4 linked regions of the Homo sapiens genome follow. The protein of the gene in region 1 interacts with the protein of each later gene in a biochemical or structural test. Each region holds a gene or a part of one and is shown in the gene's direction. Other genes may lie near its edges. The genes, in order: DNM2, PDE6G, ITSN1 and GRB2.

What was found.
Region 2: the proteins of DNM2 (region 1) and PDE6G form a complex in vitro, tested with the Homo sapiens proteins (one study listed by BioGRID).
Region 3: the proteins of DNM2 (region 1) and ITSN1 form a complex in vitro, tested with the Homo sapiens proteins (2 studies listed by BioGRID and IntAct, with this or other methods).
Region 4: the proteins of DNM2 (region 1) and GRB2 form a complex in vitro, tested with the Homo sapiens proteins (3 studies listed by BioGRID and IntAct, with this or other methods).

The regions. Positions count from the first base shown.
Region 1 is NC_000019.10:10,825,457-10,832,403, forward strand, and holds the end of DNM2 (dynamin-2), read left to right. Parts: intron 1-3,516; exon of another isoform or gene 3,517-3,579; coding exon 3,580-3,812; intron 3,813-4,670; coding exon 4,671-4,922; intron 4,923-5,521; coding exon 5,522-5,591; 3' UTR 5,592-6,447; downstream 6,448-6,947. UniProt on the Homo sapiens protein: Catalyzes the hydrolysis of GTP and utilizes this energy to mediate vesicle scission at plasma membrane during endocytosis and filament remodeling at many actin structures during organization of the actin cytoskeleton.
Region 2 is NC_000017.11:81,653,090-81,660,622, reverse strand, and holds the start of PDE6G (retinal rod rhodopsin-sensitive cGMP 3',5'-cyclic phosphodiesterase subunit gamma), read left to right. Parts: upstream 1-4,080; 5' UTR 4,081-4,130; intron 4,131-6,896; exon of another isoform or gene 6,897-6,965; intron 6,966-7,258; 5' UTR 7,259-7,317; coding exon 7,318-7,463; intron 7,464-7,533.
Region 3 is NC_000021.9:33,883,135-33,890,756, forward strand, and holds part of ITSN1 (intersectin-1), read left to right. Parts: intron 1-415; coding exon 416-537; intron 538-1,906; coding exon 1,907-1,989; intron 1,990-2,304; coding exon 2,305-2,388; intron 2,389-3,152; coding exon 3,153-3,326; intron 3,327-5,017; coding exon 5,018-5,166; 3' UTR 5,167-7,622. UniProt on the Homo sapiens protein: Adapter protein that provides a link between the endocytic membrane traffic and the actin assembly machinery. Acts as a guanine nucleotide exchange factor (GEF) for CDC42, and thereby stimulates actin nucleation mediated by WASL and the ARP2/3 complex.
Region 4 is NC_000017.11:75,325,151-75,332,772, reverse strand, and holds part of GRB2 (growth factor receptor-bound protein 2), read left to right. Parts: coding exon 1-73; intron 74-6,752; coding exon 6,753-6,875; intron 6,876-7,622. UniProt on the Homo sapiens protein: Non-enzymatic adapter protein that plays a pivotal role in precisely regulated signaling cascades from cell surface receptors to cellular responses, including signaling transduction and gene expression.

The DNA.
Region 1 (6,947 bases):
TAAGGAGTTCGAGACTAGACTGACCAACATGGTGAAACCCCATCTCTACTAAATATACAAAAATTAGCCGGGCACGGTAGCTCACGCCTGTAATCCCAGCTACTCAGGAGGCTGAGGCAGGGGAATCGCTTGAACCCAAGAGGCAGAGGTTGTGGTAAGCCTAGAGTGCACCACTGCACTCCAGCCTGGGCGACAGAGTGAGACTCCGTCTCAAGAAAAGAGAGAGAGAGAGAGAGAAAAATACAAAAAGTAGCCGGGCATGGTGGCGGGTGCCTGTAATCCAGCTACCCGGGAAGCTGAGGCAGGACAATTACTTGAACCTGGGAGATGGAGATGGCAGTGAGCCAAGATCGTGCCACTGCACTCCAGCCTGGTTGACAGAGCGAGACTCCATCTCAAAAAAAAAAAAAAAAAAAAATGAGAAGGAGGCCAGGCACCCTAGGCCATACCTGTTTGTAGTCTTAGCACTTTGGGAGGCTGAGGCAGGAGGATCACTTGAGCCCAGGAGGTTGAGGCTGCAGTGAGCTATGATCATGCCACTGCACTCCAGCCTGGGCGACAGAGCAAGACCTTGTGTCCAACAACAGCAACAACAAATTTGAATGAATCACCACCCTTTGAACACCAGAATCTGCACGGCCATCCTCTTTGGGAAACCCTAGGGTTTCCGAGCCACACTGGGTCCATAGTCCCATCAAGTCCACTAACTGGAGTGAACACTGCAGGTGTGCGCCTTCTCTGAATTAACTTAGGCTGGCATCAGAATAACTGCAGGAGGGAGAACGGCCATCTTCCCCATTTCACAGACAGAAAACAAGGCCAGAGAGATCAAGTAACCTGCCCCAAGTTCCTTAGGAAAGTGGGAAGTGGGATTCAAACCCACGTTTACCCTGGTTGCAACCATACCCTTGGGTTGTGTTGGGCAGCCGCTGTGTCCTAATGATCTGGGGCCCAGCCTCTTCCTCATGGGCGTCACCCGCCTGGCCCCGGGTTCCCTGGAGACTCTCAGGGCTCTGGGCTCCTCTTCAGTGAAATGCAGCTGTACTGATAGTATCTCCAGCTCAGGCTGCTAGAGGGCTCAGGGCACTTGTGTATCAGGCCTTTGGCATGGCACTAGCCACTCAGGAAGCTTTATAAACCAGCTTTGGGGCCGGAGCAGTGGCTCATGCCTGTAATCCCAGCACTTTGGGAGGCTGAGGAGGGAGGATCACTTGAGCCCAGGAGCTGAAGACCAGCCTGGGCAACATAGCCATACCCCAGTCTCTACAAAAAATTTAAAAATTAGCTGGGCGTGGTGGCAAATGCCTGTAGTCCCAGCTACTCAGAAGACCGAGGTAAGAGCATCACTTGAGCCCAGGAGGTTGAGGCTGCAGTGAGCCATGATTACGCCACTGCTCTCCAGCCTGGGTGATGGAGCAGGAACCTCTTTCAAAAAAAAAGTGTCTTGGGTTTTGTATATGAATGTCAACCACAGAAACCTGCGGATCTAAGTAAAACTCCCACACAGGGTGTGGCTGGGCATGGTGGCTCACATCTGTACTCCCAGCACTTTGGGAGGCTTGGCAGGAGGATCACTCGATCCCAGGAGTTCAAGACCAGCCTGGACAACATAGTGAGACCCCATCCCTATTTAAAACACACACACACCTCCCACGTGCCATGCCCTCCCACCCTGTTGCTCCCATTCTCAGTAGTGATCAGTGTTCACAGTTTCATGGTGTCCTGGTATGTTTCCTCATATACCGATAGGATCGGAGACATATACGGTTCTTCTGCTATGAAATTTAAAATGCATATATCCTTTGACCCTGCAAGTTTACTTTTAGGAACTTCTCTAAGAGAGACAATTGCCCACGTGCAAAGTGAGCTTATACATGCTTATTGTTTTCCATGATGTTTTATAGCAGCCAAAGATGGGACATAATTATCCATTTTTAATAGACTCTTATAAAATAAAAATATTTTATTATTTAAGAAAATAATAAATCTGTCGGCCCAGCTACTCGGGAAGCTGAGGCAGGAAGATCACTTGAGCCCAGGAGATCGAGGCTGCGGTGAGCAAAGATCGCTCCACTGCATTCCAGCCTGAGTGATAGGAGTGAGACCCTATCTAAAAAAAAAAAAAGTTGTGACGGCCAGGTGTGGTGGCTCATGCCTGTAATCCCAGCACTTTGGGAGGCTGAGGCGGGCACATCACGAGGTCAAGAGACTGAGACCATCCTGGCCAACATGCTGAAACCCCCCTCTACTAAAAATACAAAAATTAGCTGGGCGTGGTGGCACGCGTCTGTAGTCCCAGCTACTCTGGAGGCTGAGGCAGGAGAATCACTTGAACCTAGGAGGTGGAGTTTGCAATGAGCGGAGATCATGCCACTGTACTCCAGCCTGGTGACAGAGGGAGACTCTGTCTCAAAAAAAAAGAAAAAAAAAAGTAACTGAAAAACTTCTGTATCCAGTAGGAGGTTCCAGAAAGGACAATGTATAAAATTCATGAACAGAAACTAGTAGTGTTTGAACAGAAGCCAGGTGGAAGATGTAACAGGATTAGCCGGGCGCAGTGGCTCACTCACGCCTGTAATCCCAGCACTTTGGGAGGCCAAGGCGGGTGGATCACCTGAGGTCAGGAGTTAAAGACCAGCCTGGCCAATATGGTGAAACCCCATCTCTGCTAAAAATACAAAAATTAGCCGGGGGTTGGGGGGCACGCCTGTAGTCCCAGCTACTTGGGAGGTTGAGGCACAAGAATTGCTTGGACCCAGGAGACGCAGGTTGCAGTGAGCCAAGATTGCACTGCAGCCTGGGTGACAGAGTGAGACTCTGTCACAAAAAAATAAAGATATAACAGGATTGGCTGGGCGCGGTGGCTCACGCCTGTAATCCCAGCACTTTGGGAGGCTGAGGCAGGCGGATCATAAGGTCAGGAGATCGAGACCATCCTGGCTAACAGGGTGAAACCCTGTCTCTACTAAAAATACAAAAAATAAGCTGGGCGTGGTGGCAGGCGCCTGTAGTCCCAGCTACTTGGGAGACTGAGGCAGGAGAATGGCATAAACCCGGGAGGCGGAGGTTGCAGTGAGCTGAGATTGCACCACTGCACTCCAACCTGGGCGACAGTGAGACTGTCTCAAAAAAAAAAAAGCAAAAACAAAAAAGATATAACAGGATTATTCTGCCAAGGTTAAGGAAATAAATAAATAAGCTAAAACAGGAGAAAAGACATCAATGGAAGAGGCAAGATACTAGAAATAAGTTGAATAAGAATCTCATAACCAGCCTGGGCCACATGGTGGAACCCTATCTCTAAAAAAATTACAAAACTTAGCCAAGCATGGTGTCAACGTGCCTGTCGTCCTAGCTACTTGGGAGGCTGAGGCAGGATAATTACTTGAACCCGGGAGGCGGAGGTTGCAGTGAGCTGAAATTGAGCCACTGTACTCCAGCCTGGGTGACAGAGCAAGACTCTTTTTCAAAAAAGTCTGGGGGTGGCCCCGCCCTGTGAGAGATGTTTTTCCAGCAGTCACTGTGGGTTCTGGGTTGGGGTGATACACAAGCCTGACCCTCCCCAACCCCTGCCCGCAGACGAAGGCCTTCATCCACCACGAGCTGCTGGCCTACCTATACTCCTCGGCAGACCAGAGCAGCCTCATGGAGGAGTCGGCTGACCAGGCACAGCGGCGGGACGACATGCTGCGCATGTACCATGCCCTCAAGGAGGCGCTCAACATCATCGGTGACATCAGCACCAGCACTGTGTCCACGCCTGTACCCCCGCCTGTCGATGACACCTGGCTCCAGAGCGCCAGCAGCCACAGGTCCGGAAGCCTGGTTCCCCTACCCTCAAGCATTCGGCCTGCAGGTTCCTGCCCTCCCTGTGTGTCCTGCAGGGTCCTGGCAGGAAACAGGACACAGCCCAAGGGTGGCACCCAGGGCTGGGCACTGTGGGAGCTGCTGCCCTGCTGAGGCCGGAGGAGGGAGAGAAGGGGTATGGGGGCGAGCCAGCCCTACAGCTCTAGGGCAGGACCCTGTGAATAAATACCCCGCCTGCCCTCTGCTGGTGCCTTCCATTGGCACAGCCCAAATGGAAGCTGGGGTAAGAGGCTGGAGGGGCAGCAGCCACAGGAGAGAGATGAGCCTCCTGGAGCACAGAGAAGGGCAGATGGGAGGCTCTGGAGGGGCAAACGCAAGGCGTGGCCAGAGCTGCTGCCGCCCCTGAGTTGTCCATTGAGGCCGTCGGGCAGGGAACCTCAGAGGGGGCTGCCTTGCAGAGCCCTGGGGGAGCCATGGAGTTCCTTAAGGGGAGGATATCGCACCCAGGCCTGCAGGTGGCAGGGACTGAGGCCCAGGAGGGAATCTGGATGTCTGGACAGGGCTTGCAGGTTCCACGGCCCCTAGAGATATTAGGGCTTGATCTGGAGGACTCTGGAAGTGTCTTTGGCTGTGAGGGTGGATCCCAGGCCCAAGGCCTGAGGGGGCCCTGTGAGTGGGAAGTGCCTGAGGGGGCCGAGGGCAAGGGAAGGTGGGACTGGCGCTCAGGTTGGGGTGGGAGGATCCCACTGCGCCTGCGCTGTCCCCATAGCCAGCCCCCACCTCAGGTTCTGGCAGCCACAGTGGCATGGCGGGGGCTCCTACTCCATCTGTATCTGTAGCTCACACCCTCTCCTTCCTCACAGCCCCACTCCACAGCGCCGACCGGTGTCCAGCATACACCCCCCTGGCCGGCCCCCAGCAGTGAGGGGCCCCACTCCAGGGCCCCCCCTGATTCCTGTTCCCGTGGGGGCAGCAGCCTCCTTCTCGGCGCCCCCAATCCCATCCCGGCCTGGACCCCAGAGCGTGTTTGCCAACAGTGACCTCTTCCCAGCCCCGCCTCAGATCCCATCTCGGCCAGTTCGGATCCCCCCAGGGATTCCCCCAGGAGTGCCCAGGTAAGGCCAACCCCCTGCCCTCCACCCCAACTGCCTGCACCCTGGGGTCTCTCCTCCTGTCTCACTTCCTCCCAGTGAGCTCTCACTACGTGCCCAGCTGCTGGAGTGGAGGAATCGTCCTCATCCCTATTTGGCTTGCGAGGAAACAGGCCCAGAGAGGCCAAGAGGCTTGTTCAGTGTCACAGAGTAGCGGAGCCCTGGTGACTCCGGGGCTCCCAGCTTGCCCTCTGCCTACTGGGGTGTGCCACCAGGCAGCTGGGGAACCCTCACACTGGGCACCTCCTCCCACTGTTTACCTTCTTCTCCTTCCTGCTCCTGCCTGCCTCAACCTACCGTGGGCCAGGCTTTATTCTCCCCACTTCTCCGGTGGGGAAGCTGAGGCCCAGGGAGGGCAGGGGGCTCACTGAGGGTCAAACAGCAGGCGAGTTGATGCCTAGGTTTGGCACTCCTGCCCGACACCCTGGTGGCTTGCGGAGGTCAGCCTGGGAACACCCTGGGGTGGTGTGTGGGTGGGGGCTGGGTCCTCAACCCAGGCCTGCCTCTTGCTCCCGGCCTCACTGCCGTCTCCCCCTCCCCACCTGTCTTTATTCTCTTTGCAGCAGAAGACCCCCTGCTGCGCCCAGCCGGCCCACCATTATCCGCCCAGCCGAGCCATCCCTGCTCGACTAGGCCTCGAGGGGGGCGTGCTCTCGGGGGGGCCTCACGCACCCGCGGCGCAGGAGCTTCAGTGGTCTGGGGCCCTCCGCCGCCCCTATGCTGGGACCAGGCTCCCAGTGGGCAGCCCTGGCCTCTTCCTTAACGCTGGCCCCGGTCCAGGGCCGGCCCCTGTGCCTGGCTGGACACCGCACTGCGCAAAGGGGCCCTGGAGCTCCAGGCAGGGGGCGCTGGGGTGTTGCACTTTGGGGGATGGAGTCTCAGGGTGGCAGAGGGGGGACCAGAACCCTTGACACCATCCTGAATGAGGGGTCCAGCCTGGGGGGGACTCTACCAAGGTCTTCTTGGGCTGGGAAAGCCCATGTAGGGCAGGCCTTCTATAAGTGCGGGCACCAAGGGCGCCTACATCCCCAGGCCTTGCTGGGGTGCAGGGGTATATCAACTTCCCATTAGCAGGAGCTCCCCAGCGGCAAGCCTGGCCCAGTGGGCTCGGTAGTGCCCAGCTGGCAGGCCTGAGGTGTACATAGTCCTTCCCGGCCATATTAACCACACAGCCTGAGCCTGGCCCAGCCTCGGCTGCCAGAGGTGCCTTTGCTAGGCCCGGAGCCGTTGGCCCGGGCCGGCCTTGCCCTATTCCTCTCCTCCTCCTCCTCCTGGGTCCCCCAGGGTGGCTGGGCTTGGGCTATGTGGGTGGTGGTGGCGGGGGGTCTTGGGGGCCTCTCAGCTCCCGCCCATGCCTCCCTGATGGGTGGGCCCAGGGCGGCCTCTCTCTGAGGAGACCTCACCCACTCCTCGCTCAGTTTGACCACTGTAAGTGCCTGCACTCTGTATTCTATTAATAAACTAAAATAAAGGGAAGACGCTGCTGGTGGCTGCTGTGTGGGCCTCTTGTGTTAGTGTTCAGGCTGGGGACATGGGTGCCACCTCCATCAGGCCTCCCATAAGGATGCCCAAGTCCCTGCACTCATAAGTGCCTCCCATCTCCCTGAGGGCTCTGCTTTCGGGGGTGTCACCTTTCAGAGGAAGCCACTCGATACAGGGGAGAGCTTTTACTTTCCTTAGCATGTGAGGAGTGGGAGCAGATATTCTCTGACCCCCTGCACACCCCCACGTGCACAGGCCTGGCTGCTGCCTGGTGAAGCGGGGACCCCAGCGCTCCACCCCCTTCCTACCCTCAGGCCCTGCTTCTCTCACCTCGTGGGGAAGCCCAAGCCTCGTGGCCCAACTGGGGCTCAGTTAAACTTTGCTTTCTGATTTTTCTCTTGTGCCAGGCGACCACCTCCATCGGCTCCCGCACGACCTTTCTTCTGAGCTTCGTGGGAGGCCCCTCCCACCTGTCTGGCTGCCCCCTCGGGGGCCGGTCTGTCCTGG
Region 2 (7,533 bases), on another chromosome or scaffold:
CTACTCAGGAGGCTGATGTGGCAGGATTGCTTGAGCCTGAGGAGGTCAAGGCTGCAGTGAGTTTGTTTGTTCTCAAAAAACAAACAAAAAACAGTTTATAGTCTTTATACACAGCCGCTTTGGGAAAGCTCCATTCCTTAACTTGTGCTTGTCTTGGTCTTCCTGTGTGTAGTTACTGCTGTAGAAAAGTATTAATAGCTTCATTTTTTTGTTTTGAGACAGAGTCTCTGTCGCCCAGGCTAGAGAGCAATGGCACAATCTCTGCTCACTGCAACCTCCACTTACCGAGTTCAAAAAATTCTCCTGCCTCAGCCTCCCCAGTAGCTAGGATTAAGGCACCTGCCACCACGCCTGGCTAATTTTTTGTATTTTTAGTAGAGACAGGGTTTCGCCATGTTGGCCAAGCTGGTGTCGAACACCTGGCCTCAGCTGATCCACCTGCCTCAGCCTCCCAAAGTGCTGGATTACAGGTGTGAGCCACCGTGCCCAGCCTAATAGTCTCATTTTGTTTCTTTTCTTTTTTTCTTTTCTTTTTTTGAGATGAAGTTTCGCTCTTGTTGCCCAGGCTGAAGTGCAATGGCACGATCTTGGCTCACTGCAACCTCTGCCTGCTGGGTTCAATCGATTCTCCTGCCTCAGCCTCCTGAGTAGCTGGGATTACAAGCATGCACCACCACGCCCGGCTAATTTTGTATTTTTGTAGAGACAGGTCTTCTCCATGTTGGTCAGGCTGGTCTCCAACTCCTGACCTCAGGTGATCCGCCCACCTTGGCCTCCCAAAGTTCTGGGATTACAGACGTGAGCCAATGTGCCCGGCCTAATAGTTTCATTTCATGTAAACATAAGTAACTTCCAAGCAATTACGTAGAGGGCTAAAATTGTACCTGGTATTTAAGTCATCAGAACCGGTTCTGCAAGTGACTGTGTTTTGCATTATTGTGAAGATATGAAAATGTGGTGAACGACAATTTAAAGAGTGTTCCACATCACCGTTTAATTTCTTTTTTATTATTTATTTATTTTTGAGATGAAGTCTTCCTCTGTCGCCCAGGTTGGAGTGCAGTGGCGCCATCTCAGCTCACTGCAACCTCCGCCTCCCGGGTTTAAATGATTCTCCTGCCGCAGCCTCCCTGGCAGCTGGGACTACAGGCGCCCGCCACCACGCCCCACTAATTTTTTTAGTTTTAGTAGAGATGGGGTTTCACTATATTGCCCAGGCCGGTCTCAAACTCCTGACCTCAGGTGGTCCAGCCACCTCGTCCTCCAAAAGTACAGGGATGAGCCACCATGCCTGGCCTATTTTACTATTTCAGAGTTGAGGTCTCGCTCTGTCACCCAGGTTAAAGTGCAATGGTACAATAATAGCTCTCTGCAGCCTTGAATTCCTGCAGCCACCGATATTTCACTTCTGCATTCCAGCCTAGGTGACAGAGCCAGATCCTGTCTCTCAAAAAAAAAAAAAAAAAAAAAAGATATGGATTGCAATCTTGTTTCCTCTGGGGCTGAGTGAGGGATTGAGCCATGTGGGACAAGAGGTTTTTGACTTGTTCCATTTATTGCAGCATAACTTGAATCCAGCCGTCCTTTCTGGACTAGTGATTTTTGCCAGTCTCATGGCTAGAGTTTTACAATCAAGGCTATAGGGTCTTTGTTTAGGTCTATTTGGAGCTTTATGTATTTTCATGTGATTGTCTTTGTATATTGTCTGTGATACATGATACCAAAAAAGGAGTACTCATACATTTTATTTTATTTTACTATTTATATTTTTATTATTATTTTTTGAGACAGAGTCTCACTGTTGCCCAGGCTGGAGTGCAGTGGTGCAATCTCAGCTCACTGCAACCTCCACCTCCTGGGTTCAAGCGATTCTCCTGCCTCAGCCTCCTGAGTAACTGGGACTACAGGTGCATGCCACCACGCCCAGCTAATTTTTGTATTTTTAGTAGAGACAGGGTTTCACCATGTTGGCCAGGCTGGTCTTGAACTCCTGATCTCAAGTAATCCACCTGCCTCGGCCTCCCAAAGTGCTGAGATTACAGGCGTGAGCCACCATGCCCGTCCAGGTTTTATTTTTAATTTTTCAAAATTTTCATATTTCTTCAGAGATAGGGTCTCTCTCTGTCCCCCAGGCTGGAGTGGTTTGACCATGGCTCACTGCAGCCTCGAGCTCCTAGGCTCAAGGGATCCTCCTGCCTCAGCCTCCCAAGTAGCTGGGTCTATAGAAGTGAGCCACTGTGGCCAGGCACGGTGGCTCACACCTGTAATCCCAGCACTTCGGGAGGCCAAAGTGGGCAGATCACGAGGTCAGGAGATTGAGACCATCCTGGCTAACATGGTGAAACCCTGTCTCTACTAAAAATATTAAAAATTAGCTGGGCGTGGTGGTGGGAGCCTGTAATCCCAGCTACTCAGGAGGCCGAGGCAGGAGAATCACTTGAACTCAGGAGGCAGAGGTTGCAGTGAGCCGAGATCAGGCCACTGCACTCCAGCCTGGGCAACAGAGCGAGACTCAGTCTCAAAAATGAAATAATAAAATAAGAAGTGAGCCACTGCACCTAGCTAATTTTTTCTATTTTTTGTAGAGATGGGGGGGTCTCACTATGTTGTCCAGGCTGGTCTTGAACTCCTGGCCTCAAGTGATCCTCCTGCCTCAGCCTCCCAAAGCGCTGTTTGAGAGCCACTGCTCCCGGCCGAGTTATGGGTTTTTATTTATTTATTTATTTATTTATTTATTCATTTGAAACAGAATCTCGCTCTGTCGCCCAGGCTCTAGTGCGGTGGCGCGATCTCGGCTCACTGCAAGCTCCGCCTCCCGGGTTCACGCCATTCTCCTGCCTCAGCCTCCCAAGTAGCTGGGATTACAGGTACATGCCACCACGCCCGGCTAATTTTTTTGTATTTTTAGTAGAGTCGGGGTTTCACCATGTTAGCAAGGATGGTCTCGATCTCCTGACCTTGTGATCCACCTGCCTCAGCCTCCCAAAGTGCTGGGATTACAGGCATGAGCCACCACACCAGGCCTGAGTTATGGGTTTTTAAAGGTGCAGAGGCAGAGGTCACAGGCAAGTCATAAATCAGTACATGGAGGTTGTACACTGGTTTTGCCATAAATAGCAAGGAGATCTTGAAGCCAGGGACCACGGGTCATAGGTGGATTCAAAGGTTTTCTGATTTGGTGCAGAAGCGAATCTTTGTCTAAAACTTTGGGATCCGCAGGAAAGAATGTTAGCTCTGGGTTGTGGGCATGGCCTCCTCCAGGCCCCTCAGGATGGGCATAGCCTCCTCCAGGCCCCTCAGGAAGAAATTTAGGTAAGAGAAGGGTGGTCAGAGGCCAGTCCTCAGCTCCCGCTCATGTGAGGTCTGTGTGCCAGCACGCCCCTTTGGTGGGAGTCCCTGTTTCTGGAAAACAACTGAGGAGCACCTGCTAAGATGGCATGGTTTGCTTCTGTGGAGACTCTCGGGACTCTGGCTTCCATCTGTTGTTCTAAGCTCCTGTGACCTTCTTGTGACCTTCCTGTGGATCGGCTGCTCATTTCCTTCTCTGGGCTGGCTGGGGGCCTGGCTTGCCCTTGAAGGAACTCAACATTGTCCTTGCTTCTGTGCTTGGGAAGACCCACAGGCCCCTAAGGGCGGGGGGGGGTCCTTGTTTGGTTTCAGGAGCAGCAGGTGCAAAGGCCCTGGGGTGGGAGGGGTGAGATGTGAGGCCACAGCAGCGGGTGAGGGCCAGGCTGCAGAGGGTTTTGGGGACCATGAAGGTGGGCCCTTCAGAGATCAGGCAGGGTCAGGAAAGGCAGTAGGGAGGCCCAAGACAGCAGACACTGTGGTTGCTTCCATCTGGAAGATGGGCAGCTGCAGGAGCCTGGCTGTTCAGGGTCACACTTCTCTCCCTGTCCCGGCCCCATCTGCTGGGTGTCCTTCCTTGGAGCCCTTGACAGCACCTGAGCCCCTCCTCTCCATCCCCTGAACCTTGGTGGTTGTGCCCCCCCTCGGGGCCCAACAATCTCATTAGGGTGGCACTGAGACGCCTAATCAGCTCATGAAGCAGCGAGATAAAGGCCGGGGCTGGCACCCTGCGGAGGGAGGCCCAGCACTCACAGCACAGCCCCCTGAGACCCGCCCTGCACTTGGTGAGTAGTGGCCAACCCCGCTGTCTTTCCTGGCAGCCACTTCCCCCAGTGAGTCAGTGGGGGTCTGCTCATCACCCAAGGGGCAGAGGGAGCTGACAGGCTTTTACCACCGTGGCTGAGGTCTGGGTCTGCAGATGCCTACCCGCCACCCTGTTATTCAGAGGGGACTCCCAGCCAACCTCCTCCTCTGCTCCCCCATGGTAACCAGTGCTTCCACCATCCCCAGGCCAGTGATGGTCTGGGAACCTCAGGCCACGTGGGCTCAGCTGACCTGAGTGGACGCCAGTCACAGGCTGGGTCGGGCCAGGGCAGCGCAGGCAGCGGTTTCCACATGGATGGCATCTGATGGTTGGAGCTCCATCAGGGCCCAGAGCTGCCCAGGACAGCCCATGTCCCAGGGCTGGAGAAGCAGCTGGACGGGGCCTGTGCTATCTAGGATATGAGGATTGGGTGCCATGGGATCTGAGCAGCTGGGACCACCGGGCTCCTGAGTGCTGGTTTTGCACAGGCTGGTGCTGGTCCCAGTCCCGGGGACAGAGGCTGAACCTTAGTGAGGGAAGGTGCCATGGCAGGGTCCACCCCAATCCCAGGTGCCCAGCACCCCTTGCAGAGCCCGCGTCCCCAAAATGGGCCACCTGCCCTTGCTTTCTGATCACTCTCACGCCTGAAGCTCGGCAAACAGCTGGTAGTAGCCCAGGGCTGGAGTCAGGAATCCCAGCCAAAAAGACCAGGGGCAGGAAAGGGGACCCCAAGAGGTGGTCCCTGGGGCATCCAGTGCGGGCAAGCAGCCCCTCCTGTCTGTGTCATGTGCCTCCTTCCAGAACTTTCCGGCAGCATGTGCAGCTGACAGCAGCTCGATGGGAGATTAGGAATTCCCCTCTGCTGTTAATAGGCTTAGGGGAAGCTGAACTGCCCTTGGCCCAGGTCACTGGGGCTTAGGGCATCTGGGGAGAGGCTGTAGGGAGAGGAGGAGGAGAGGCCACCCTGTGCAGCAGTGCAGGGACACTGATCTCGTCCAGAGCGGCCGAGGCCCTTCAGCCACGCCACGCCACGCCAGGCGGGTGACCCTGCTCCCCGAGCTGACTCCAGACACAGAGAGGGCCTGGTGATTCCCCCAGCAGGGGGAACACATGCCCGGCACCCTCCGTCCCCAAGCCCCAGCTTGTCCCTCTATGAAGTGGGGTTGGGGAACGCAGGGCTTCACAGCTCAGCACCAAGTCTCTGAGACAGGCCCCTTTCCCAGGGGCGCCGTGCCTGGGGACCCTGCCCCCCATTTTGTGGGTCATTCTCCATCAGCACTGCGGGGTGCCCGTCATGGTGCTGAGGGGCTCAGGGATGCCTCCGTGAGTGGGTGAAGGGAACTGACAGCACCCCAACTGCAAAGCACAGACAAGAGGCAGAAAGCAATAAACCCATCAATAAGAATCAGAGGGGTTGGCCGGGCGCAGTGGCTCACGCCTGTAATCCCAGCACTTTGGGAGGCCAAGGTGGGTGGATCACGAGGTCAGGAGATCGAGACCATCCTGGCTAACATGGTGAAACTCCATCTCTACTAAAAAATACAAAAAAAAAAATAAATTAGCCGGGCGTGGTGTCGGGCGCCTGTAGTCCCAGCTACTGGGGAGGCTGAGGCAGGAGAATGACGTGAACCCAGGAGGTGGAGCTTGCAGTGAGCTGAGATCGTGCCACTGCACTCTAGCCTGGGCAACAGAGCGAGACTCCGTCTAAAAAAAAAAAAAAGGTGAGATTCCAGCCACAGCTCTGGAATAGGATCCTAGGGGGCTACTTTGGCAGGTATTAAAACTTTTTTAGGCCGGGCGCGGTGGCTCACGCCTGTAATCCCTGCACTTTGGGAGGCCGAGGCGGGTGGATCACAAGGTCAGGAGTTTGAGACCAGCCTGACCAAGATGGTGAAACCCCATCTGTACTAAAAACACAAAGAAAAATTAGCTGGGTGTGGTGGCGCATGCCTGTAATCTGAGCTACTCCGGAGGCTGAGGCAGGAGAATTACTTGAACCCGGGAGGCAGAAGTTGCAGTGAGCCAAGATCTCGCCACTGCACTCCAACCTGGGTGACAGAGCAAGACTCTGTCTCAAAAAAAAAAAAAAAAAAGAATCAGAGGGCAACAGCCCGGGAGACGCCCACCAGCCTGGAATCAGGGCTAACTCGACGCGTGATGAGAAGCGGCAAATCAGAACCTAAGGACACAGTGGCTGCAGGGCGGGGGTTCAGGGGAGACCTCCCTGAGCGGGAACTTGAGATGGAGGCAGCCCACTAACCATCAGGAAGGGCAGCTCAGAGGCAGGCTCCTCTGCTGGGCCTGGCAGGCCCATTCCCAGCAGGAGCCACAGAGGACTTTCATCAGAGTAGCAGCTGGGCCGGGTGCGGTGGCTCACGCCTGTAATACCAGCACTTTGGGAGGCTGAGGCGGGTGGATCATGAGGTCAGGAGTTCGAGACAACCTCGTCAACATGGTGAAACCCCGTCTCTACTAAAAATGCAAAAATGCAAAGATTAGCCGGGCATGGTGGCAGACGCCGGTAATCCCAGCTGCTGGGGAGGCTGAGGCAGGAGAATCACTTGAACCCGGGAGGCGGAGGTTGCAGTGAGCCGAGATAGTGCCACTGCACTCCAGCCCAGGCAACAAGAGCAAAACTCTGTCTCAAAAACAAAACAAAACAAAAAAAAACCCAGAGTAGCAGTTAAATGCCGACGGGAGTCACGCTTCCCTGGGGTGGGGAACGCAGGGGAAGGGGCAGGAAGTTGTCAGTGGTCACCCACAGGGAGGTGGTGAGGACTCCAGGCTCAGGACCTGCCACAGGTTGGGAGGCTAGGTTTGCTGTGGATTGTGGGCCGGGGCGAGGGAGGCCAGGACAGGGGGGAGTCCGGAGCTGTGTGTGGCCAGCGTTGCAGGGGGGCATCCACTAGGCAAGGGGAATGGGAGCGTGCGGGTGGACCCAAGCAAAGCTGGCAGGCTGGTTACCCCAGGGCGGATTGCAGGGGCTGCTGTCTGGATGACGCTGGAGCTGGCGGGGCTGGGTCTCAGCCCCTCCACCGGTGGGTTGAGACCCCCACAAGGGTTGGAAGCAGGAGGGCTGACTGGGACCCGGGCCTGGTCTGCCCCCAGACCGCAGCAGGAGGGAGTCCAGGAGCCAAGGTTGCCGCGGTGTCTCCGTCAGCCTCACCATGAACCTGGAACCGCCCAAGGCTGAGTTCCGGTCAGCCACCAGGGTGGCCGGGGGACCTGTCACCCCCAGGAAAGGGCCCCCTAAATTTAAGCAGCGACAGACCAGGCAGTTCAAGAGCAAGCCCCCAAAGAAAGGCGTTCAAGGGTAAGCAGAGCTGGGGGATGGGGCCTCTGAAAGGGAGGAGGCGGTCCTGAGGCTGCACAGGAAGGGGAGG
Region 3 (7,622 bases), on another chromosome or scaffold:
TTGATGTAAAGTGGATGAAAACTGCTGTTTAGAATACACCAGGAAAAGCGACACCAGCCAGATCTTATTCTGAAAGACTTAAAACATACCCGCAAAATCGTGGGCGGGGGAACCCATATTTATCATATTTATAATTTGTAATATGTAAAAGTTGATGCTAACCCAAAATTATTATTCTGGGATTCTTTACTGGAAAACACACACGCCCTTAGTCTGGTTTACTGGAACACACCCAGAAACACACACACATGCTCAGTCTAGGTTACTGAAACACACGCACGAGTGTGCACACACGCGCTGACTTGCAGTCTCGTTTACTAGAACACATTGGCATAAGTGTGCTCACACACTCACGGTTTACCGGAGCACACAGACCCCCAGCCTCGCTTTGTAATGCCTGTGTGTTACTTTCCAGCCTATTTTCCTAAATGAGGTTCTAGTAAAATTACCCACCGACCCTTCTGGAGACGAGCCCATCTTCCACATCTCCCACATTGACCGCGTCTATACTCTCCGAGCAGAAAGCATAAATGAAAGGTGAGACCTGCCGCCTCCCCAGCATGGGCCCCAGGGCTCCACGGCTCTAGGACACACAAGGGGCGGGTGATTAATCAGGTGCCAATGTTTCCCAAGTGGCAATGCCATCACCCCTAGCTGGGAGTGGGGATGGGGCTATTACTTTTTTCTACAGCCTCTCAAAAATCTGTCACATGGCATGCCCTTTCCAAAATAACATGGATTCAAACTAATTTTGCTTGAGTTTTTTTTTTTTTTTTTTTTTTTAAGGCAGAGTCTCACTCTGTCACCCAGGCTGGAGTGCAGTAGTGCAGTCACAGCTCACTGCAGCCTTAACCTCCTGGGCTCAGGTAATCCTCCCACCCTAGCCTCCCAGGTATGTGGGACTACAGGCATGTGCTACCAAGCCTGGCTAATTCTTTATATTTTTTTGTAGAGATGGGTTCTTGCCATGTTGCCCAGGCTGGTCTTAAACTCCTGGGCTCAAGGGATCCACCCGCCTTGGCCTCCCAGAATGCCAGAATTCTGGGATTACAGGGGTGAGCCACTGCACCTGGCATTGTTGTTGTTGTTGTTGTTGTTTTATTAAGAAATGTTTCGCATTCTTTGAGGTAAACAGAGCATCTCAGGTTTCCCCTGGCTTCCCAGGTGGCAGAAACCAATAGGAAAGTAATTTCGGGGTTAATAGGACCACGCAAACCCAAACCTCTCCTCACCTTGGCTGACTTAAATGGGCATTCTGGAACCTAGGGCTGTGGGTATTTTGCTTCAATCTGTCTTCAAGACACTGCCCTGGAGCCAAATGAAATAGATCATTTTCTGAAGGGTGAACTTGACACAAGGCCAGCATCATTCCAAAGAGCATTTGCACCAAGCAAGAAAATTGGCTAAAGCTTTTGTGCATATGGTTCTCAGAAAAAATGAAGGAGAAAACCGCGGCCACAAATGCCTTCCCCCAAGGCGTTTTGGTCTTTCGTGTGAAGTGGTTCCCAATCTGGGAAGTGGTTTTTGTTCTTTCTTTGCGTGATTTCATAAGCGAGATCCTTCTGGCTTTGTTGGATTAGGCAAATATGTGCTGCTCTTCGGTAAGGAAGGAAGAGGAGTCGTGTCCCGATGTTGCCTCCAAGACAGCATCTATCACAGATTTTCTTCCCCGGGGACATCATCGCAGGTCTTGAGGACATCCATGGAAATGGCCCTCATGCCTTTCTTATCGATGGCAGGAATAAGTATTAGCGTCACGTGACATAAAATCAGATTTTCTTTCCCGAGCCTTTGTTGTTAAAATCAAATGAACAAAGAAACAGAGTCCTGGCAACAGTGTTTGAACAGACCTGAAGCCTTTTTCCTGAGTTTCTGTTTGGCAACTTTCTGTCTTTTTCTGTCCAAGGACTGCCTGGGTGCAGAAAATCAAAGCTGCTTCTGAACTCTACATAGAGACTGAGAAAAAGAAGCGCGAGAAAGCGTACCTGGGTAATGCATGGCCCCGCGGGGTGTCCTGCACAGCTGGGCAGGAGGGAGGGCCATTTGGCTGGGCTGAAAATCCTCAGAATAGAAGAATCCCCTGGACCTAGAGGAGGGGCATGGAATGAGATGGAAGTGAGCTTGGGGTGGGATGCAGATGGGGATGGAGGGCAAATTCCAGGAGCAAGGAAGCAAGTGTTTAAGGAGAGGGAAGAATTACTTTTGAGTCGGGAGAGGTACATGAAATGCATTGTGAGGCTCACAGAGATGGGAAAGGTGTGGCACGTTCAAATGAAGCATTTTGTGTTTTTCCTGCCGTCATAGTCCGTTCCCAAAGGGCAACAGGCATTGGAAGGTTGATGGTGAACGTGGTTGAAGGCATCGAGTTGAAACCCTGTCGGTCACATGGTAAGGCTGTGAGGCGCCCCCGGCTCCTGCTTTGGGGTTGGGAGTAGGGTCCGGGTTCCCCACACCCCCACCTGGCTCTAGATCAAATGTGCTATTTCCATACTCCCTGATCTCCTTCCAGAATTGGTTTAACTAGCACTTGTTAAAAACCTGGAGGTTTTGTGTTTTTTTTTCCATCCTTTCTACCATTCTGCTTCTCCGAGGGATCTGAGTGGCTGCATTCACAGTGGATGTGACACAAGATCAGGCCAAAGTAACGAGACAGGAAGGGCCTAGTTTCAAAGCCCACTCAATTAAGTATTTGTTTTTAGTTTAAGGATGAAGCTGACTTCTGGGAGTTTCCACCCGGATTCTCCACCGAATGACACTTATTAAGCATAGCAGTTATTAAGAGTGGGGAGCGGCCGGGCATGGTGGCTCACACCTGTAATCCCAGTGCTTTGGGAGGCCAAAGCAGGTGGATCACCTGAGGTCAGGAGTTTGAGACCAGCCTGGCCAACATGGTGAAAGCCCGTCTTTACTAAAAATATAAAAAATTAGCCAGGCATGGGGGCAGCCACCTGTAATACCAGCTATTCATTCAGGAGACTGAGGCAGGAGAATCACTTGAGCTCAGGAGGTGGAGGTTGCAATGAGCTGAGATCATACCACTGCACTGCAGCCTGGGCGACAGAGCAAGAATCCATCTAAAAAAAAAAAAAAAAAAGAGTGGAGATCAAAATGAGGTGTGAGTTCCACCTGGCGAAGGCTTTTGTTCCCTCCAGGAAAGAGCAACCCGTACTGTGAGGTGACCATGGGTTCCCAGTGCCACATCACCAAGACGATCCAGGACACTCTGAACCCCAAGTGGAATTCCAACTGCCAGTTCTTCATCCGAGACCTGGAGCAGGAAGTCCTCTGCATCACTGTGTTCGAGAGGGACCAGTTCTCACCAGATGGTGAGTGGAACGCGGCCCTGTGGTTATTCCTCCTTCCCTGGCACTCGTTTGCGTGGGTTAATGTTTTCTTACCTGGGGACTTGGTGCCAGGATTCCTTCGGTTTCCCTCCTGAGAGATGAGGCTGGCTGGCACAAGACGAGGCTCTGTCTCCCCTGGAGGAGTCTTCTGGAGGCGTCTCATTGCATGTGGACAGAGCATGCTTGGTCTAGAATTGTGCCAGCTGCCCTGGGCAAACACGTCCATCTTCTGCTTTCCAAAGCAGGTGACTGTGGAGAGGGGTGTGTTTAAGAGCCTCAGCATAGTTCTTCAGTCCTTGGCAAAAAGCTGTGCTGGCAATGGATGAAACTGGCCAATGGAACAAGGATGTTAGCCCACAACAGGAGCCGCAGAATGGGCCAGGTCCCTTTGGGTGGCATTTTTGTACCACTTATTAAGTAGGCAAAGGGATGCAGTCATGTTGAATGAATCATTTCTTCAGCCAGCCTTCTGTTTCTGCTTGGGCCTGGAAAAGAATAGTCTCAGCCCAATGATTCCAAGAAACTACCTGTCTCTCCCTCAACCCAATAAAAATCACCGGTGGGCATGGTGCTGCAGGCCTGGAATCCCAACACTTTGGGAGGCTGAGGCAGGAGGATCGCTTAAGCCCAGGAGTCTAAGACCAGCCTGGGCAACATAGTGGGACCTTGTCTCTACAAAAAAATACAAAACTTAGCCAGGCATGGTGGCATGCACCTGTAGTTCCAGCTACTCGGGAGGCTGAGGCAGGAGGATTGCTTGAGCCTGGGAGGTCGAGGCTGCAGTGAGCCATGATGGTACCACTATATTCCAGCCTGGGCAACAGAGCAAGATCCTGTCTCCAAAAAAAAAAAAATCACAGAGTAAGTTAAAAGATTATGGTCTCAACTTAATTATAACCGAAGAAGTGAGGGTCAAATGCTAGCATTATCTGTACAAGGTTTAAATGGCTCCATATGGCCTTCATCTTTTAGTACTTTTTATATGAATTATCTCATTGTGAGTTAGGTACTCGTTGTGGTAGCTGGTTAAATGTTTGAGTGTGACTGGAACAGTTTGGCTCCCAAGTCTGGGCTCTTAACTACTATGTGTACTGTCAACTTCTAATTCTTTTTTCTTTTTATTTTTTTTATTTATTTATCTTTTTTCTTGTTGTTCTCGCTCTGTCACTCAGGCTGGAGCACAGTGGTGCAATCACAGCTCACTGCAGCCTCCACCTCCCAGGCTCAAGCAATCCTCCTGCCTCAGCCTCCTAAGTAGCAGGGATGACAGGCATGAACCACCATGCTAGGCTAATTTTTAAAAATTTTTTGTAGAGACAGGGTCTCACTCTATTGCCCAGGCTGGTGTCAAACTCCTGGACTCAAGTGATCCTCCTGCCTCGGCCTCCCAAAGTGCTGGGATTACAGACGCGAGCCACTGTGCCCGGCCACCTTCTAATTCTGAGAGATAAAGGTTGGGGTTGGGTTTTTTTTTTTATTTAAGTAATGAAATACCATGACACATTGGCAACTCCGCTGGGGAGCGAGTTGGAAATCCTAGTGTTGGTTTACATCAGAGCCCAGAGAAGAAGGGAGAGCATAACAGTTCATCAGGGGGTCCCCAATATGCCAGACATGTGCCTCGAAGAGAGGGAATGGTCCCTCTTAGGAGGGTCTGTTTGTTCTCTTTTCAGATTTTTTGGGTCGGACGGAGATCCGTGTGGCGGACATCAAGAAAGACCAGGGCTCCAAAGGTCCAGTTACGAAGTGTCTTCTGCTGCACGAAGTCCCCACGGGAGAGATTGTGGTCCGCTTGGACCTGCAGTTGTTTGATGAGCCGTAGGCAGCGGGCTCAGGGTGTGCTCAGCAGGGTCCCAGCCCACGGCCACACATGCTGTCTGGAAATTGTATTCCTTTTCTAAGAAACCACCATTTGGTATTCAGTCACAGGGATATGGGATGGCAAAGACAGGCCCCTCAAAGCTCCTAGGAATCATTCTCGACAATCCTCCCTGCCCCGAAACAATTTCCTGTTTCATGAAACAAAGCTGTGTTTTCCTTTGTCCTCACTACAGGTCTCATTATGGCTTCTAGGGTCGCTGAAATCCCATAGCCCTCAACAGGGTGCAGCTGGGAGTCTAGCCCCTTCCCGGGCTTGAGGGATGGGTCTGGTTACTATAAAATAGATTTATAAATGCAATGTCTATATTTTTGGAGAACTCATGTAACCCTCCTGTTTCTTACATCCACCAGTCCCCAAGTAGACTTCTTGGCCTACAATGCCCAGTCCTTGGTGTGAGTTTAGAAACAATTATGACGGTCCTGTCATTGCTTCAGAATCCCATCTCTCCTGCAGGGAAATGCTGCCTAGAGCTGATCACTCGGTGAGACGGTCTGATCAGGCCCTGGCTTAGCTCTTTGAAGAGCTGGTCTATGGAAGTTTCCAGCATGTGCACCGTTATAGCCGTTCCTTCCCCCTCTAGGCCTTGTATTAATATATGTCAATGAAAACACACTGGTGTATTGTTGCGTGGATTCAGTTCTGATTCCCAGCATGCTTAGAATATGGTCACAGAAAGTCATTATCTAGAAAGTCACCCCTCTGCTGGATCAGATCACTACAGGTCACTGGAAAGGCAACTTTACAATGTTGGGTCACTGGGTCTCGGTTGGCAGCCATGTTGGAAAAATCTCTTTTGGCTCGGAGGCCTGTGATATTTCATAGCAGCAGTCGTTGCTGGTGACCTGTTCTGTGCTTGAATGTGCTGAATCCTGATTGTTGTAGGACATTTCAACAGCTCTTTTTGGTACGTTCCCCAAAAAGCCATGTCCTAGATCCCCAAGGCGTGAAAAGGAAAAATATCAAGCTGGAGGTTGGGAAAGAAAATGAAGGCAGTCCATTATGTGGTGGGTGAAAGACCCTAGGAGGATGCAAGCCCCGCACATCCCGGGGCAAAGACCTAAGACACTTTTCCACCCTCCACCACCCCAACCTCACATAATATGCTTGTTGCAAGAGTCAGGACTTTATGACTATGTGCCAAGCTGTTTGGTTTGAGTTCTTTAATTTTTTTTTCCCTTAAATGCCAGGAGATCATCTGGTTAGTTAGATAGTAACTTGATTTGCTAATGAAAAGTGGGGGCCGTGTTTTGTTTGCATGTTAATATTCTCATAATCCTAGTTTGTTGTGGTCATGAAATGTCCTTTGCATGTTCTGTTGGTACTGGAGTCTAGCTTTCCTGTACTAGATGGTGTTCTCTTTGATTGTAGGTCCTTAGACTTTAATTAGGGTTATCAAAGTGCTTTCTAAATGATAGCATCAGCGTTGTGGCAGAGTACCTCCTTTGCTGGGAACTGAATGTGTAGTGTTATCATTTCCCATGAGAGCCCGGTCATACTTCAAGCAATTTTTTTAAAAGTGTGTGTTGGAAAGGACAACAAAGTTTACATTTCATACTTTTAAGAAATACTTTATTATTTATTTATTGAAGATAGTGTAGAATTTTGTATCAAGAACAACAGACATAAGTATTTTTTGAAACAAGCAAATATACCCTGTAGTTAGAAACTTTCAACTGAACATGTTAGAGACCAAGTTTAACTTCAGGCATGCATTTGTTTACCATTTCCCAGCAGAAAACATGGTTAAAATACTTTAAGTTTATATTTTTTGATGTTGTTAAGAAACTTTTAAATTAAATCTATAAATAGACATGCAACTCATGCTTTCCTATTTCTATAACCAACACCGTTTGTTTAGTGTATTTATGAAAGATATGCTACCATGGTAGAAAGAAAAGTATTCAATGTGTAAATGGGGTAGTGTGGGTCACCATTCCGATCTCTTTTTGTTTTCTGTCCTGTCTTTTCTTCATTGACTTTATTTGCGTGTTAATGTTGGACATCATTGTTCATGTAGGTAGCGTATGGTATGCACAATGACAAACAATCGTTTTAGGTCCCAGGTCACCCACTCATAGTGTCCTATTATTGGAATTAATGTAGCATGAGAAAGCAATATGTGACTCTTTTTCCTCAAGTGACTCTGTTGAGCATCCTTGAGATGCTCCTGCCATGTAGCAAGTTCTGGATTAGTGTCCTTGTATTTACTGGTGTAATTTGTAATGTAACCAATTGTCCGTATGGAGGAGTCGGGCTGGCCCTCGGACCCAGCTGTGATTCATGAGTTGTGTCACAGGGATTGAGAAACATGGGTGATGCATGGAGTCTCAAACCATTGGGCCTCTCTGTTCCTTCACCTCTACCTTCTTGACCACCTGGGCTATATTTCATAGAAA
Region 4 (7,622 bases), on another chromosome or scaffold:
ACTGGTACAAGGCAGAGCTTAATGGAAAAGACGGCTTCATTCCCAAGAACTACATAGAAATGAAACCACATCCGTAAGTTAAGCTCCATTAGTCTTGGAAGGGTTGGACCCACCTCCTTGTTTCAAACACTCTTTTTAAAATTGAGATCACTGGGATGGATGTCATACTTTTTATTCACGTTTCTAGGGAATTAACAAAGGATATTGATTGTGCATGTTAATAGTATATAATAATATATCATAGTCAATAATATTATATGTTTTAGATTGATAATAACTGTCAGTGATCTTCAAAAATAAAACGATAGTTGGTGCAGGTCCGTAATTCTTTTTCTGTTAAATATGTCTTAGAGCCAGATGTGTTTTATAATTCTGCATTTTTTTTGAGTTTTAGAAAAGGTACTTAGATGATTTTGTGTTTATATGTGCTAATGCTGTGGGACGGTATCTTAATATCTTTGTATCCCCAGAGTACGGTGCTTGGCATCTAATAGTTCTCAATAAATGTTTATCCCTCCATCTTAGTGTTCCTACTTACAAGAGAACAAAATATGCTGTCCTCCAGGCTGCTGGGAGCAGTGAATATTTTTAATTTTTTTTCAGAAGCTACCCTTGTCACGATTTTATTAATAACGCAACATAGTGGACCCCTGAGAGCCCCTGCAGACCACTGTCCTCCCGTTCTCACCCACCCCTCATTCACAGGCCCTGCTCCTAGCACAGAAGCAGTTGCTGGCTTGCCTTACAAGTGTGTCAGGGGAGCTGAGGCTTTCCACGCTCAGACTAGAATGCCCTTGGACATTGTCCACTTGCTTTCACAGCAGCTGGTGGCGGAGACTTTCAGGTGGCTTGTCGCATCTTGAGTGGGAGGGGCCTGTTGGATCACAGCACATCCTCCCCAGGTCCCATATAAGCCACATAATTTGTGTACTTCTGTTTCCTTCAGTCGTCCTCAAAAGAAACTGTAGGTCAAGGGTTGGCTAAACTTTTTCTGTGAAGAGCCAGATAGCAAGTAATTTCGACTTTGTGGGCTGCATACAATCCTGTCAAATATTCCTTGTAAAAATTTTCTTTTAACAATCGAGTAGAAATTTAAAAAACAGTCTTAGGTTGTGGGCAGATTTGGGCAGAAGGCCATTATTGTTTGCTGGCTCCTTCATTAGATCCAAACACAACATCGACTTCAGTTCCCTTTTGTTTTCATATTTTCAGATTGAAAGGGAATTCAACAGAACATCATACTACACTTCTTATATGACATGCCTGTGGCTCGAAATTCTTATTTTTCTTCAGTGTTTCGGGTGACACAGGCATTTAAATCTGACTGTTGAGGAAAGATAGGAAAGGCTACCTTCCTTGGAAAGTTGTAGTTACTGCCAGGCTGACTGGGACAGTCACTCCCTTGCCTTGACCTTTTGTCCCCACTATGAAGAACTTTAGAAGAATTGATGGAGAAGCACCCAGCACAGGCTCAGCTGTGTTGTTATTTGCAGACTCTGCCCAAAGGGTGGGCAGTGCTCAGCCACTCTGAGCTCTGAAAAGGCAACTAGCAACTTAAAAACCCTTATTTATTCAGGTCTACCATATTGCTAACAAAGACCATGCTTGTGCCTATGTAGGTGTTTGGCCTTGCAGACGTAGTTGCTGTTGTATAGGGCTGCTCTGTGGCTGGATGTTCATGAGTATAGGGTCAGGGTCAGTACCAGGCCTTCTCCTCCACATCCTACCACCTCCTGTTTTTTTGTTTGTTTGTTTGTTTGTTTGTGGGGGTGGGGAGCAGGGGTTATGGAGGAAGAGGGAAGCATAAAATGTAGCACCATGTCAGCTAATGCAGCATTCAAGTTAACAAATTAGACTACAAAATGATTGTTGGCATTAGTGCTGCAGCATGAGTTGTATATGCTTGAGGGGTGGATCCAAATATGTGCTTTTCACACTAAATGCATATGGATGGGAGCCTACGGGATGTAGTAAAGAATTATATTGGAAAATTAGCCTTCTCCCCTCACCCCCTTAGCTCTCGCCCTTGCTATTTCTGTTGTATAAGCCCACCTTTTTTTTTTTTGTTTTTTGTTTGTTGTTGTTCTTGTTGTTTTTATGAGACGGAATCCTGCTCTGTTGCCCAGGCTGGAGTGCAGTGGTGCTATCTCAGCTCACTGCAACCTCCGCCTGCTGGGTTCAAGCGATTCTTGTGCCTCAGCCTGCCGAGTAGCTGGGACTACAGGCGCGTGCCTCCACTCCCGTCGAATTGTTGTATTTTTAGTAGAGATGGGGTTTCACTGTGTTGGCCAAGCTGATCTCGAGCTCTTGGCCTAAAGTGCTGGGATTACAGGTGTAAGCCACCGCACCCTGCCAAAGCCCATCTTTTGTTTGTTTGTTTGTTTGTTTGTTTGAGATGGAGTCTCGCTCTGTCGCCAGGCTAGAGTGCTGTGGCGCGATCTCGGCTCACTGCAACCCCCAACTCCCTGGTTCAAGGGATTCTCCTGCCTCCACCTCCTGAGTAGCTGGGATTACAGGCATGTGCCACCATGCCTGGCTAATTTTTGTATTTTTAGTAGAGATGGGGTTTCACTGTGTTGGTCAGGATGGTCTCAATCTCCTGACCTCCTGATCCGCCCGCCTCGGCCTCCCAAAGTGCTGGGATTACAGGTGTGAGCCACCACACCCGGCCCAAAGCCCATCTTTTTAAAGACTTTCAAAACATTTGCCTGTTAGAGCTTGCAGCAAGCCAAGATCACGCCACTGCACTCCAGCCTATTCAACAAAGCAAGACTCTGTCTCAAAAAATAAAAAATAAAAAAAATTCACCCGTAAGCATGTAGTCACATGTACATATCATCATTTTAAAAAGTCAAATTTATAAATGATATAAAATGCTATAGAAATGTAGAATGGTGGTATTTCAGTGTTTTAGTAGTGACAGCTATTCACAGGGTCTTGCTCTGTCATCCAGGTTGGGCTCAAGTTATCCTCCCACCTTAGTCTCCTAAGTTGCTGCGTCTACAGCTGTGCACCACTATGCCTGGCTAATTTTTTATTTTTCGTAGAGACAGGGTCTCACTGTGTTGCCCGGGCTGGTCTTGATCTACTGGGCTTAAGCAATCCTCCCACCTTAGCCTCCCAAAGTGCTGGAATTAACAGGCGTGAGCAACTGCACCTGGTGCCAGATTTTTTATTTCTTGATCTGGGTGCTTATAACAGAGTTGTGGTTTTTTTGGTTTTTGGTTTTAATTCCAGTTAGAGTACTTTTTAAACATTATAATTTGTACTTCACTACAATTTATTTTTTTTAATTGAAAATAAAATTGCGTTAATTTTAAGCTGGGGGCAAGAAAACACAGCAGCCATGTCTATGTGACACCAGACAGAAAGGTCTGGAAACCTAAGTGTTAGAACCGCCAACACGTGCTGCCTCTGGGGAGTTTGAGGGAAGCATCTTACTTTTTATGTTTGCTTCATGTACATCTAGGCTATTTCAGTTTATATTCATTATTTTATACCTACAAATGGGAAAAAACCTCCCTAGTGGAGAGATCTTGGGGGCCTAGGAGGAAAGAGAGCCTTGCTGATTGAGAATCTTCACCCTCACCATTGCTATTGGAAGTGGCAGTGGTGGGGAGTGTGGGGCAGTGTGGGGAGAGCCAGCCGAGGCCATGTGTGGATTTTCACTGCTGTACCCAGTCAGATGCATGCTGCATACACTTATATTAGAAACCCAGGGCCCCCCGATATGAGAAGGTTTAAATACCGTTGATTGGGGCCCCCCGATTGAGAAGGTCTCAATACCGTTAAGTGTCCTTATTTATTTATTTATTTATTTATTTATTTATTTTTTGAAAGCGAGTCTCGCTTTGTCGCCCAGGCTAGAGTGCAGTGGCGCGATCTCGGCTCACTGCAAGCTCCGCCTCCCAGGTTCACTCCATTCTCCTGCCTCAGCCTCCTGAGTAACTGGGACTACAGGCACCTGCCACCACGCCTGGCTAATTTTTTGTATTTTTAGTAAAGACAGGGTTTCACCGTGTTAGCCAGGTTGGTCTCGATCTCCTGACTTTGTGACCCGCCCGCCTCGGCCTCCCAAAGTGCTGGGATTACAGGCGTGAGCCACCACACCCGGCCTATTTAATTTTTTTGAGATGGAGTTTCACTCTTGTTGCCCAGGCTGGAGTGCAATGGCACGATCTCGGCTCACCGCAACCTCTGCCTCCCGGAGATTCAAGCGATTCTCCTGCCTCAGCCTCCCGAGTAGCTGGGATTACAGGCATGCGCCACCGCGCCTTGCTAATTTTGTATTTTTAGTAGAGATGGAGTTTCTCCATGTTGGCCAGGCTGGTCTCGAACTCCTGACCTCAGATGATCCGCCCACCTCGGCCTCCCAAAGTGCTGCGATTACAGGCATTGAGCCACCGCACCCAGCCTCCTTTTTTATTTTATTTATTTATATATTTTTTTGAGACAGAGTCTCACTCTTTCGCCCAGGCTGGAGTGCGGTGGCACAGTCTCGGCTCACTACAACCTCTGCCTCCCAGGTTCAAGTGATTCTCCTGCCTCAGCCTCCCGAGTAGCTGGGATTACAGGTGCCCACCACTGTGCCCATCTAATTTTTGTATTTTTGGTAGAGAGTGGGTTTCACCACGTTGGCCAGGCTGGTCTCAAACTCCTGACCTCAAGTGATTCACCCCACCTCAGCCTCCCAAAGTGCTGCAATTACAGGCATGAGGTACCGGGCCCAGCCTGTCCTTTTATATTTAGAGAGCATTCTATTCTAGTGATATGTGATTTCTCTTGTGTGGCCTGATTTCCAGGCACTGCAGGCCCTAGCCTTGAGTTATTTGTAGAAGCAGGAGGATCTATTGTCCCAGCTCCTCAGCATCCTGGCAGTAGAGTATGCAAAATGAGAAAGACTCCAAGCAGGTAGATGTCAGACTATTCAGAGTTACTAAGAGTCCCTAGAGGCTGACACACACACACAAGGACAAAGTTACTAAGGGCAGCTTCTAAGTGTATCCTTCCTAGCAGATCACATCTTTCTGTTTGAATTTGAGTATAGTATATTATTTTAGGTACATCTTCCAATATGGTTGCTTATAAGTAAGATATGTAAATTAGCCGGGCGTGGTGGCTCGCGACTTTAATCCCAGCACTTTGGGAGGCTGAGGCGGGCAGATCTCGAGGTCGGGAGTTCAAGACCAGCCTGGCCAATATGGTGAAACCCCGTCTCTATTAAAAATACAAAAATTAGCTGGGCGTGGTGGTGGCCGCCTGTAATCCCAGCTACTAGGGAAGCTGAGGCAGGAGAATTGCTTGAACCCAGGAGGCGAAGGTTGCAGTGAGCCGAGATCGTGCCACTGCACTCCAGCCTTGATGACAGAGTGAGACTCTATCTAAAAAAAAAAGGGCCGGGCGTAGTGGCTCATGCCTGTAATCCCAGCACTTTGGGAGGCCAAGGCAGGCGGATCAACAAGGTCAGGAGATCGAGACCATCCTGGCTAACACGGTGAAACCCCATCTTTACTAAAAATACAAAATATTAGCCGGGCATGGTGGCGGGCGCCTATGTATAGTCCCAGCTGCTCAGCTACTTGGGAGGCTGAGGCAGGAGAATGGCGTGAACCCGGGAGGCAGAGCTTGCAGTGAGCGAGATCGTGCCACTGCACTCCAGCCTGGGTGACAGAGCTAGACTCCTCAAAAAAAAAAAAAAAGAAAAGATATGTAAGTTAGATTTACAACTTTAATGGACTATTTGGTCCATTAAAAGGACTTTTGATATTATAATTAGCATATTAAATGAATGCCAGTTTCCATGTTTATAGGTCTTTATTTGCTATAACTTTTGCTTTTAAAAATGATAACTAAAGACAATTTTGAGAAGAGAACATGGTTTTCACAGTTTCTTCTTCCTAATTATAGTTTTCATTTGAAATAGTGAGGCAGCTTGACTTGAAGCTCTTGTAGAAGTGTTCCTCTCCTCTTCCTCTTGATAAGCCACAGCCAGTTGCTTCACAGTTTTTCATGAATTTAGCCACTTTTTCTTCTGGCCAAGGTGAATCAGCAATTGGGAGCAGAAGAGTCTGCAACTTGCCTCAAAAATCTGAATTTTGCAGCTAGCTGCTGAGCATATGGTAAATTACAATATTCCTGGTGGCTTCTGAAAGCTGAACTCTGAGCAGTGGCCCCAGAGGCAGGCCTTGAGAGGAATGCTGACCTTAGTTACTGGTAGAGGCACCCTCATACTATCTGAACCTTTTGCCTTTGGGCTGTTAGCAAAAGTAACCCTGCCTCCAGCTCCTGGCCGTCCAGGTTTCCTCCCCACTTTCCCTTAGTCCCACTGTGGTGAAGCTGTGATCTTATCACATGGCTGCAGGAAGGGGCCAGTCTCTCCTTGGCAGTTCATCCCGTACACCAAGCCCAAAGGCCTGAGCTTTTCCCCAGGCGCCTTTGTCATGAGTCAGTAGGGAGTCCAGTGGGCTTTGGCCTGGGGGGCCCATTTTCAAATGTCTCCCTCTATAGAAAGAGTGACCCACGGTTAGTGCCTTGGTGAGTCGCTTTCTGGGAAATGGAGTAGGCTAAAGACCTTTGAAGGTCCATCTCTGGGGACCCAACCCAGTGTCGATCTTGGGCACTGTGAGGCTGGAGGATGAGGAGGGAGGCCCCTTCCTCTGGCAAGGAGTGTTGTGTTACTCACATTTTGAAGGCTGGATATCCCGTTTCTTTGTGGGGAAGCAGATGTTGACCAGCTTGCCTTCCTTCCTTAGGTGGTTTTTTGGCAAAATCCCCAGAGCCAAGGCAGAAGAAATGCTTAGCAAACAGCGGCACGATGGGGCCTTTCTTATCCGAGAGAGTGAGAGCGCTCCTGGGGACTTCTCCCTCTCTGTCAAGTAAGTATTTCCTGCTGCAGTTGCCTGGAATCCTGTCTCTGACTGATCCAAATTGTGAAGCCGTTGGTCAGGTGCCTGGCTACACACAAAATGGTGGAGGCTTAGCCTAAACAGTTTCTTCATTTCACATTAAAATCCTAATTTCTGGCTCCTCTCAAAATGAGTTCTAGAAGCACTGGATGTAGATTCCCATGTGGACACAGCCTTCAGGAGGTGAGCAGCAGCTCCCTGCAGCCAGCTGGAGCCTGCCAGTTTTCCCTAGTGCCCAGCACTCCTGAGCTTCTGCCCTCCAAGGGATTCCCGCAGCTCTCTCTAATGGGATAGTGGAGCGCCTGTCGGCTGCCTTGGCTTGCCTTGCTCAGGTCCACTGACTTAAATCAACCAGCCCCATCCTAGGCCCTCACAGTCACTTAAGAAGGCTGCTGCAGGGGATGTGGGGCTTGCATTTCCCCGGTGGAAAGTTCAGGTGTGAAAGGGAGCGGGTAAGCAGGGAATGGAGAAGACAGGAAGTTCTGCCGCCATGGAGAGTGTGGAGAATAGAAACCAGCACTTGAAGATTCTAAACAATTCACACCTCAGCTGTGAAGTCGGGATTTTGAATTAAATTGTTATTTCCATGTTTTTTACTTTCAGTTATTTTCTAGTTAATGTATTATCATAGGACCCTCCCCAGGAGTCCGGCAGATCACTTCATCAGTTATATATAAAGAAGTAATTAGATTCAACACTCAGATCACTACTTAGTTT